Linked DNA regions of Homo sapiens: region 1 is linked to region 2. Evidence: fine-mapped expression QTL. Tissue or cell type: whole blood. Region 2 holds a variant in brackets; the other region holds the start of a gene. All regions are shown on one strand. Distances are from middle to middle.

Region 1 (5,392 bases), 29 kb after region 2:
AGCTTTATGCACTATAAAGAGATACCAAAATTCTACAAGAAGTCCTTGGTAGTCATAGTGAGATCTGCATTTTCTATTTGGGAGGAAAATTTATAATTAGACTCCTCATAAATTTGCTTTGCTATAAAGAAATAATTTCTCAATGAAAAAGGTTACAAAGTTTTAAGTTAGAAAAATTGTGCTACATTTTTACATAAATTAGCCAATGAGTTATTTAGTAGTTCAACAATATAAATATGGAAACAAGCAAAATTTTAAAGTAAATATGTAACAAAGAAATTAAACCACAAACCCTTTCAGGTGGTACAGCCTAAAATGTTTACCCTTTCTCAAGCAGAAATTGGACTATCTCTGGGTGCCCATTCCTTGCCGCATACATTAAAGCAGTCCAGCCATTTTCAGAAGTTTCATTGAGAAGAGATGGAGAATGACTGAGTATTCCTGTTAACTTGGCAATATCTCCTTCAGCAGCTGAACAGTGAAACTGAGTAACTATTTCTTGCTTCAGACTTCTTTTTACAGAAGACATTTCTTCCTTAAAAGAAGGAAAATCAGGGGAAAAAGCTTATTTGCAACTGCTTTTTTATCAATGAACAATATTGATAAATAGCAATAGAATAATAGCAATGGTTTCCAAGGCAACATACTATTCAACAGGCAATCCTTAAACAGCATACATTTCAATTTCAAAATGTTATCAGTTTAGAATTATAAAATGCAACGCAATTTATATGCCCATGGGAGTTACACAAAATAATGAATAAAGAGCTCTGACAGTACAGACGAGGGGGCCATATCCTTGGGAGGGGGAACCAGGTAACATATTACATAAGGAGGAGGTATTTAGGGTAGACCAGAGGGGACTTCACGATGGGTGGGGACATGAGGGGGAGAGCATTAAAACAGATGGAAGTAAAGGCAGAGACTTTATAAGTTTCACAGGAAAACAGTTTATTGTTTGACCTTGCACAATTAATTCTGTAATCCATCTAGGATCTATTTTTGTTCATGGCATGAGGTAGGGGTCAAGATACTTTTTTACCCAATGCATAATCCATATTACTCCGTATTATTCTTGAAATTACCATCTTTGTCCTACTACACTGAGACAAATATTGTCACAAATCAGATGATCATATATTTTTGGTTCTATTATTGGACAGTTCTGTTGGTCACTTTGTTGTCCTTGAATCAGAGCAGCTTTTAAAACTCATTAACTTTATCTGCTTTGTCACCTTTTTGTTTCGGTGGGGTAAACCCTGAAATAATTGTTCCATACCTCTTAAATATTGCCTAATCATGGACTGCAGATGATAGAGCACACACTGAGCTTTTTTTGTCTTTTTTTTTTTTTGGCGGCGGGGGATGGTGAAAATGGTTCATGATTCAACTGTCTGTGAACTTCTCAAAGTATTTTTTTTTAAGGTATAATTCTTCTTTCTATGAAATGCTATTAAGAAAAGATTTGGGATTCTAACAACATTTCTATCATTCTAAGCAATAAGATTTTTAAGCTAAAAAGACAGAAAGGTTATAGCCCATAGTTTTTGATAGCTGCTGTCTCCTGGGTTCTGAAAGGGCGATCTGGCTGATGAATTGCATAGCAGGAATAGTATGAACAAAATTTAGGGAAAACAAGGAGTAAAGATTAATTGTCTCATTTTGGAGCTGTTCACCTTTCCTATTTGTGTCTTTCTGCTACTTATAAATAGGTTAAAACTGCTCACAGTCATGGAAACACTTGGATGAAACCTAACAGTGGAAATCTGTTTAGAAATTAAATTACCAGAAGTAATATCTACATGACAGAATAATTTTTGATTTATTCTAGAATTTACTTCGCTGTTCCTTTCATATTGAAATTTCTACATACGTTAAAAATACTATGCATAACAAAAGCTACAAATTTTCAGGACTTTATTTTGAAGCACTGCTGTACAGCTCCTGTACTGATCTCCCTTCCAAATTGTCTTTCTCTTAAGTTTATTTTCCAAAAACCCATATTATAGTTTTTTCAGCTAGGTTTAGTTTGAATAATATTTCACTGTCTCATGTTCTGGGGTCACCGTCACTCCCTCACATTCTCACAGGCCGCGCCAGGTAACTGCAAAATTGTCCTTCAAAAATACAGCGTCATTCACTACCTCCAGGGCAATGCTTATGCATATGCTATTCTGTGGAGATGGGAAGTGGAAAGTGTACACTTTTCCCTCTAGCTTTCTCAGCAGAAAAGCCATCTAGAAATAGTACCATTATTCATTCCAGAGAAGCACATAAAGTCTAACACCCAATTCTACTGTTTGATTTACTTTTTCAATTCTCATTGACAGGTTATAGAAGGTAAAGATTTGAAGGCAGAATAAAGTGCTGCCCTTGTTTTCCAAGAAGCTCAAGGACTATTCCGAGAAATCATTTAAAAGAATATTAGATGTAAAGGGACATAAATTTTTAACAAACCAACATCCACTTTTACTGACATGTAACCCGGGGCCCATGACTTCCGCATGCTCACACAGACCGAATGGGACAGGACAGGACCTTAAATATCGCTCTGTCACTGAAATCACTGACCATCAATTAACGAATTTCATCCACTCCCTGGGCACTCAAGACCAATTAAGTGCCACCCGTGCACGGTCTCTGAAAATGGTAAAATGCCTTAAGATATTTTACTTTCTTGCCACTACTGTGAGATTCCTTCTTTCGAGGTGAAATCACACCCTAAGTAGCGCTTCCTTTTCCCCATCTCAGCTTGGGCAGGAAACTCTACGACCTCAGTACCGCCGCACCTCCGCCCTGTCGCGGGAGCCCCTGCAAATGCGTCCGTGGCTCCCGCGCCTGCGCCCACCAAACCACTACGAGGCTCCGCCACACAACTCAGCAGGGCCACGCAGGGCAGCGCGGGAACCAAAGAGCCCAGGGAAGTGGTCACCGCCCCCAGAGGAGGCAATGAGACGACTAACTCCCCACTGCTTCTACTAACCCAAAGGTGACCACAGTAGAGGCAACCAGGATGCAGTCCAAAGATTGGGATATCCCACTCGCTTTTCCTGGAGCCGGATGCAGTCTTCCCGACTTCCGGTGGAGATCCGGGGGTGGGGGGGGGGCGGGAGGGGGGCCCCCGCGGTTTTATGGGAGATGTAGTTTGAAGCCCACAGGTTGTGCGCAAGGGAGAAGGGGTGGAGATTGGGGGTGGAAGTGTTTGGGAGCCGGCGCGGGAGAGATCGCGGTCTAAAGGATTGGAGCTGAATGAAGGGCTGAAAATCCTTCTCCTGAGACTGTGATGTGTAGATAGAACGTGGTGCAGGCGATCGGAAAACTGTAGGCCTAAGGAAACGATTTTAAATTTTCCAGCGTCTCCCACCCAACTCCTAGCCCTCTCTCCAATACAGTCCAATGCAATTGAGTGCTCAAAGCATTCTTTCCTGTTAAATAATCCTGGACTATTGACTAGACCAAGTCACTCTTAAACGAGATATTCGGCCTCTGTAACACCTTAATCATTCACCCCATGGGAAAACTGGTATCATATACTGACGCCTAACTTATTCAGTAGTCCTTTAAAAAGTATGTATCAAGCGCGCAAAACACCTCCTTGGGTTGTGAGGTGTAAATAGGATAATGTATCCAAAGCTCTTAGGATGTTGTGAAGTGCAGAGTGGGCACCCACAACAAAATTATTGTCGTTATTTTTTATTTCAGTTCCTGTGCTTTTATGCTCCAAAACCTACAGAAGTTATGAGTCCGAGATTACAAAACTAGGTGTTGGCGGTCTTCTAACTTCCAGACCAGGGCTTTTTCCTTTACTAAACTCTCTCCTTGGTAATCAGCAACAGCTACAGGGGTCTCTTACAATTGATCACTGTTTCCCACCCAGATTTTACCCTTGGAAGCTCCTTCTCACTGTGAAGCTGTATGCACCAGTTGACATTGATCATGAGGGCTTCTAACGCCCTGTGCTGCTGTTTTTTTTTTTTTTTTCTTTTTTTTAGATGGGTTCTCACTCTGTCACCCAGGCTGGAGTGCAGTAGTGCGATCTTGGCTCACTGCAACCTCCGCCTCCCGGGGTTTCAAGTGATTCTCCTGCCTCAGTCTCCCGAGTAGCTGGGATTACAGGTGTGCGCCACCAGGCCCAGCTAATTTTTGTATTTTTAGTAGAGACAGGTTTTTGCCATGTTGGCCAGGCTGGTCTGGAACTCCTGACCTCAGGTGATCCATCCGCCTTGGCCTCCCAAAGTGCTGGGATTACAGGCGCGAGCCACTGCACCCGGCCGCCCTATGCTTCTTTATGTGACTAGTTGTTTTCAGCCTTTAATGATTTCAGTGACCAGACAGGTGGTCAGAAAGGATTAGTTACTTCACTTGGAGTACCCAATCTTTGCATTCAAACATATGTTAGATTAGTATAGTGAACCCTCGTGTATTAATGATCCAGAGTCAACAACTATTAATATATAGTTCTCCCAGTTGTTAGGATTGTTTTGAAGTAAATTCCAGACCCCATATTGTTTTGATGACAAATATTTAAGAGTAAACTTTTTGGAAATATGTATTATATCTAAAATATAAGGGCTTTGAAAAACAACACAACTTCAATATCCCTAGTATTACAAATTTAACAATAATTCTGTAATAACATAAAAGAAACATTCAATATCAAATTTACTCACTTGCCTCAGAAGTTTTATATGTTTTTCAGTTGATTCATCTGAACAAAGTCTCCACATCACATTTGATTTTTAAAAATCTATGGATTCCTTCCTCTTCCCCTTTTTTTCTGGCAGTTTATTTACTAAAGAGTAATGATCATTTGTTCTGTAGAATTTTCCACATTCTGAATTTTGCAGATTTTATTCCTGTGCTGTCCTTTCCCCCTGTATTTCTTGCAAACTGGTAGTTAACTTTATAGAATTACTCAGATTAAAGTTTGATTTTTTTTCACAAAAGACTTTATAGGTGTTACAGTTTACTTTGTATTGAATTACTTCAAGAGGCTTACAACTTCTGGTTGTCTCTCTTTTTTTAATGTTATACTTGATCATTGGGTTCAGATGTTGTCAACCTGATAACATGTATGATAAATAATAATATAAATATTATAAAAATATGGTAAATGTTTATGATAAATATATGACATTGATATATAATTATGATAAATATAATTATATTATTTAAATATTAAATTTATGATAAATATATTATAAATTTTTCCATCAACTTTTCAGCTAATAGTTTTAGCAGCCATTCATGATTATTGCCTGCATCCATCATTTTGTTATGAGTTGCAAATAGTGATATTCTAATTTGATATTCACTCTACATTTACTAACAAATTATTTTATAATAAAGAACTTCATCTAATTAAATATCTATACAGCTTATATGGAAAGAT
Region 2 (5,392 bases):
TAATTACATTAACCTTTTTTGTTTAGTTCCATCTCAACTATTTAGTGCATTGTTAGATATATATGTACATGTGCATATAAATGAATATTCAAACATATAGATATGTAAAACATATACACATATATTCGTATTTGTAGACATTTAGGATGCAAGTTGATGCATATTGTTTAATTATTTTTATGTTTCATTGTTTCCTATATTAATAGAAACACACAATTTTTTGTAAAGTTAGCCTAAATCCAATATTATGAAATTTGTAGCCCTGCTAAAAATTAAGTGGGGTAGGGAGATGGTTTGCCTTCATTACACTGTCATTATATATAACCATATTTAAATATTATGACTGAGTAAACATATTGGTAGAGTTGGTAATTCATTGTAGAAGACCAAATTCTTTACCTTAACTGTGAAAGAAAGGGTTATATTCTCTGTTGATGATGTCTTAACTAATAGAAGATGTTGGAGAAGGCATCTGCGGGAAGGCCATCTCCTAATTTCCCAATTATCACCTCAAGCAGGCACCTGCCTGTGCTCAGAGCTAAGCCTGATTCTAATTGCTTTACTTTAAAAGAATTAATCTGTCTGTAAAGATGAAAAGGAAATAGTTTCCCATGGAGGCAGTTTGCTTTAGGTGTATTTGGCCAGGCTGTGTCTTTGGACACCTCAGTCAAAAAGCTTGACTCTTATTTGTTTTATGTAAAATCAGGTTGCTTTGCGGCTAGTTTTGGCAAAAATTTATTAAAATTCTTCATAACTCATCTCTCTCCTCCAAGTCATAATATCTGTTGATTTAAAATACTTTTTATTCCATAGCCTCTCCAAATCTCTTAATTTTCTGAAAATTCTGCTTCCCTAGGCTGCCTTTCTTATATAGAGCAATTGATACTCTCTTGGCATCTTTCAATTAACCTGTCTACATTCTCCTGCAATAAGCAAAACTACATTCCTGTGGCTGATGAGGTGAGCAGTAATCCACTCTTCTTAGAAGGCCAATGTGGGGATTGGGTTGCGCAGAGGATTACAAATGCACAATTTAATATCTTTCTTTTTTTATCCCTGTCTTACACATATTGGGTTTTCTAATTTAAAAACGCTTCAAAGGCATTTGACTAGGTATAGATAGTATAGAAAAACGTATGGAGGTTACTCAAAAAATTTAAAAAAAACACTACCATAGGATCCAGTAATTCAACTACTGAGTATGTATCCAAAGGAAATGAAATAAGTATTTCAAAGAGATATCTGCACTCCCATGTTTTATTGTATAGCTATCACAAGTCAAGATATGGAATCAACGTAAGTGTCTAACAACAAATGGAGAAAGAAAATGTGGTATATATACATAATGGAATATTATTCAGCCATAACAAATGGAATCCTGCTATTTGTGACTACATGGATAAACCTGGAGGACGTCATGTTAAATGAAATAAGCCAGACACAGAAGGACAAATACCATGTGATCTCATTCATATGTGGAATCTTTAAAAAAAAAAAGTTGATATAATAGAAGCAGAGAGTAGAACAGTGGTTATCAGAGATTGGGGAGAAGAAGGGGTTAGGAAGGTGGGGAGCAGTTGGTCAACGGGTTCAAAGTCTCAATTAGATTGAACCAATGAATTCTGGTGTTCTGTTGCACACTAGGGTGACTGTGGTTAACAGGAAAACATTGCATATTGCAAAACAGCTAGAAGAGAGGCTTTTTGAATGTTCTCACCACAAAGAAATGATAAATGCATGATGTAATGGACACACTAACTACCTTGATTGGATCATTACACAACATAGCTATGTACTGAAATATTAAATTGTACCTTATAAATTTGTACAATTACAGGGCCAAATAAATAAATACTTTTTTTAAAAGCACATGACTAGGTTAGTGATTATTTCTCAATGGTTTCACATAGTTTAAACAGAAAAATGTAGCCTGCTGCACTGAGTTTAGTTGAGAGCACTTGACTTTGACTCAGAATATCTGGGTCTGTACCATGGCTCTGCTGCTCACTCAGCAGGTTGTGTCATATCTGTGAGGCTGAATTTCCTTTACCTCTAAGATAGAAATGCTAACAAAATTTAACTTACAAAGTTGTCTTGAATAAACACAACTGAAAACATTATCAATGGTTCCAGTGAAATGGTACTTGCTATTAACCTCCGTTACAGTATATATACATAACAATTAAAATATACCCTTAATTAGAGCTGAGCAGTGGCTGGCTTTGGGAGACTTGCCATCTTATCAGAGCTGCAGGTGAGGGCTTCAATAAAGCTGACCAAACCATACATTATTTTTGCGCTAGAATGTCTAGAAGTTTTCAAGATTATCTCATCCAAAGCTCTCAATTCGGTATGTGAAAAACTGGGACCCAGACCATCCGTGCTTCCTGAATCTCACTAATGGTGGCAAACCACTAATTAAGTAAGCTCTCTCTTTGAGCAGACACACGTGGTATAGATGCCTTGGCAATATGGTTAGGCTTTGTCAAATTCCCCACCCAAATCTCATTTTGAATTGTAATCCCCAGATGTTGAAGGAGAGACCTGGTGGTAGGTGATTGGATCATGGCAGAGGGGGGCGCTGTTGTGGGAAGCCAGG[A/G]ACCCCAAATGGAGGGACCGGCTGAAGCCATGGCAGAAGAACATAAATTGTGAAGATTTCATGGACATTTATTAGTTCCCCAAAATTAATACTTTTATAATTTCTTATGCCTGTCTTTACTGCAATCTCTGAACATAAATTGTGAAGATTTCATGGACACTTTTCACTTCCCCAATCAATACCCTTGTGATTTCTTATGCCTGTCTTTACTTTAATCTCTTAATCCTGTCATTTTTGTAAGCTGAGGAGGATGTATGTCGCCTCAGGACCCTGTGATGATTGCGTTAACTGCACAAATTGTTTGTAAAGCATGTGTGTTTGAACAATATGAAATCTGGGCACCTTGAAAAAAGAACAGGATAACAGCAATGTTCAGGGAACAAGAGAGATAACCTTAAACTCTGACCGCCGGTGAGCCGGGTGGAACAGAGCCATATTTCTCTTCTTTCAAAAGCAAATGGGAGAAATATCGCTGAATTCTTTTTCTCAGCAAGGACATCCCTGAGAAAGAGAATGCATCCCTGAGGGTAGACCTCTAAAATGGCCCCCTTGGGTGCGGCCGTCTTCTATGGTTGAAACTGTAGGGATGAAATAAGCCCCAGTCTCCCATAGCACTCCCAGGCTTATTAGGATGAGGAAATTCCCGCCTAATAAATTTTGGTCAGACCAGTTGTCTGCTTCAAACCCTGTCTCCTGATAAGATGTTATCAATGACAATGCGTGCCTGAAACTTCATTAACAATTTTAATTTCGCCCCGGTCCTGTGGTCCTGTGATCTTGCCCTGCCTCCATTTGCCTCATGATATCTTATTACCTTGTGAAGCATGTGATCTCTGTGACCCACACCCTATTAATACACTCCCTCCCCTTTTGAAAATCACTAATAAAAACTTGCTGGTTTTATGGCTCAGGGGGCATCACAGAACCTGCCAACATGTGATGTCTCTCCCAGACACCCAGCTTTAAAATTTCTCTCTTTTGTACTCTGTCCCTTTGTTTCTCAGACCGGCCAACACTTAGGGAATATAGAAAAGAACCTATGTGAAATTGGGGGCAGGTTCCCCCGATAGGGGGCAGTTTTCCCCATGCTGTTCTCATGATAGTGAGTTCTCATGAGATCTGACAGTTTTGTAAGTATTTGGAAGTTCATCCTTCATACACTCTCTCTCACCTGCTGCTATGTGAGACGTCCCCTTGTGCCATGATTGTGTTTCCTCAAGCCTCCTCAACTATGTGGAACTGGGAATCAATTAAACCTCTTTTCTTTATAAATTACCCAGTCTCAGGTAGTGTCTTTATAGCAGTGTGGAAACAGACTAATACGCTTGGATTGCTTCTGACCATACAGAGCAAATTTTATAGTCAGTTTTCACTTTAGCATTGAGAAAGCACAACTTTGTTCCAGAAAATTGAATGTACTGTTTCATATGAACCTAGTATCTAGCACAGTGCCAGACACATAATAGGTACCTAATAAATATGCATGAATAAATAAATTAGATAGCACCAATCTGTACCTAACTATAGTTTTAATAAAGTGCCTTCTTGTATTTTTAAATATACTTTCCTTTTACATTGTATTTAATTTGTCGATAGTTAAAATTCTGTTTTTAAAGAAATAAATTGCTCATATTTTTTCCTACTTGTTATCTCTGTTGCTCTGTACTTGCATAAGAGGCATCCATATCAGCTGATGGCAGTGTCTGAAATCACTGGCTATAGGGGTACTATCAATTCTATTTTAATTGAATGGCAGCAAACATTTCTTCCTTTTTGCCTGTTAAACATGGCATGGCTGTAGCTGCATTTTCTAAATTGATCCTAAGCAAAATGAGGAGTGGGAGAAGGTATTCTTTAAAATATCAGGCTTCTGTTTCTGTACCTCTCTTGTCCTGTATGACCCTCTTCCTTCAATATGGTTGACCATTTTATGCTCTCTCCAGCCTCTCTCCCTATTTTAGAAAGGCCTATATAAAGATATAATAAAATGCTTAGAACATGAGCAATGTAGCAACACCAAAGAAAGTTTTGGACTATTAAATAATTTGATATTTGATTTTTCAAAACATTTTAAAATAGTCACTGTTAGAAAAAGTAGAATATTGTTGAACTTCCTCACACATGGTTTAGAATTTGTCATTTTAATTTCACATGGAGACACCAAAATTATTTTAAAGCTTTTCTACAATGATTTCATAATATTTACATATTTTCTATCTCTAAAACTATTTTACACTGTCTCTTCTCCAACCTCCTATCTGTCCTCCTCTTTCCACACTCTCAACGATGGGCTTGACACATTCCTCATAGGAAACAGAAGCTGAATGAAACTCTTTCTGCTTTCCAATACTAATTAATTATTAATTAATACAAACTGATTTCGTTGAATTTATATCATAGTCTATGAAATCTCTTTTATTTTGTGGAAAAAGTAAATGTACCTGAACCATTTTAATGCAATTATCCTCTCCTCTCCTGCAATATCCATTTCTGTCTTTCACTGCATCACTCCATCTACCATCACATGTCACTGTTCACCTTTACAGCAACACATCTTCATGGATTTGTCTATATTTTCTGAGTCTACTGTCTCTCCCCACAGCTTTTCTCAAGCCCACTCCAGGAACTACTCTATCACTTATCCCTACCACTCCACTGAGGGTGCTCTTACCCACATCGACCAGTGACATCCATATTGTCAAAGCCAAAAGTCAATTCTGTGTCATCTTAGGCACACTCTCAGCAGAATTTGACACAACTGATCACTCTGTTCCTCTTGCATCACTTTTTTTT

The links. PIP is the estimated chance that this variant, and not a neighbour inherited with it, causes the effect.
Region 1: it holds the start of NUDT12, and the variant in region 2 is fine-mapped to the expression of NUDT12 in whole blood (TOPMed, PIP above 0.99).

What each region holds. Positions count from the first base shown.
Region 1 is chr5:103,559,720-103,565,111 of GRCh38, forward strand. It overlaps NUDT12 (nudix hydrolase 12), which reads right to left and starts at 3,070. Exons shown (of 7, transcript NM_031438.4): 1 at 2,984-3,070; 2 at 324-535. The coding sequence starts at 529. RefSeq lists enhancers at 2,310-2,842, 2,843-3,373.
Region 2 is chr5:103,530,564-103,535,955 of GRCh38, forward strand. All of the region lies in intron 2 of LINC02115 (long intergenic non-protein coding RNA 2115), which reads right to left. Among named protein-coding and RNA genes, the nearest start is that of LINC02115, 8.7 kb to the right of the region's middle. The variant A/G (reference allele first, on the strand shown) is at 2,600.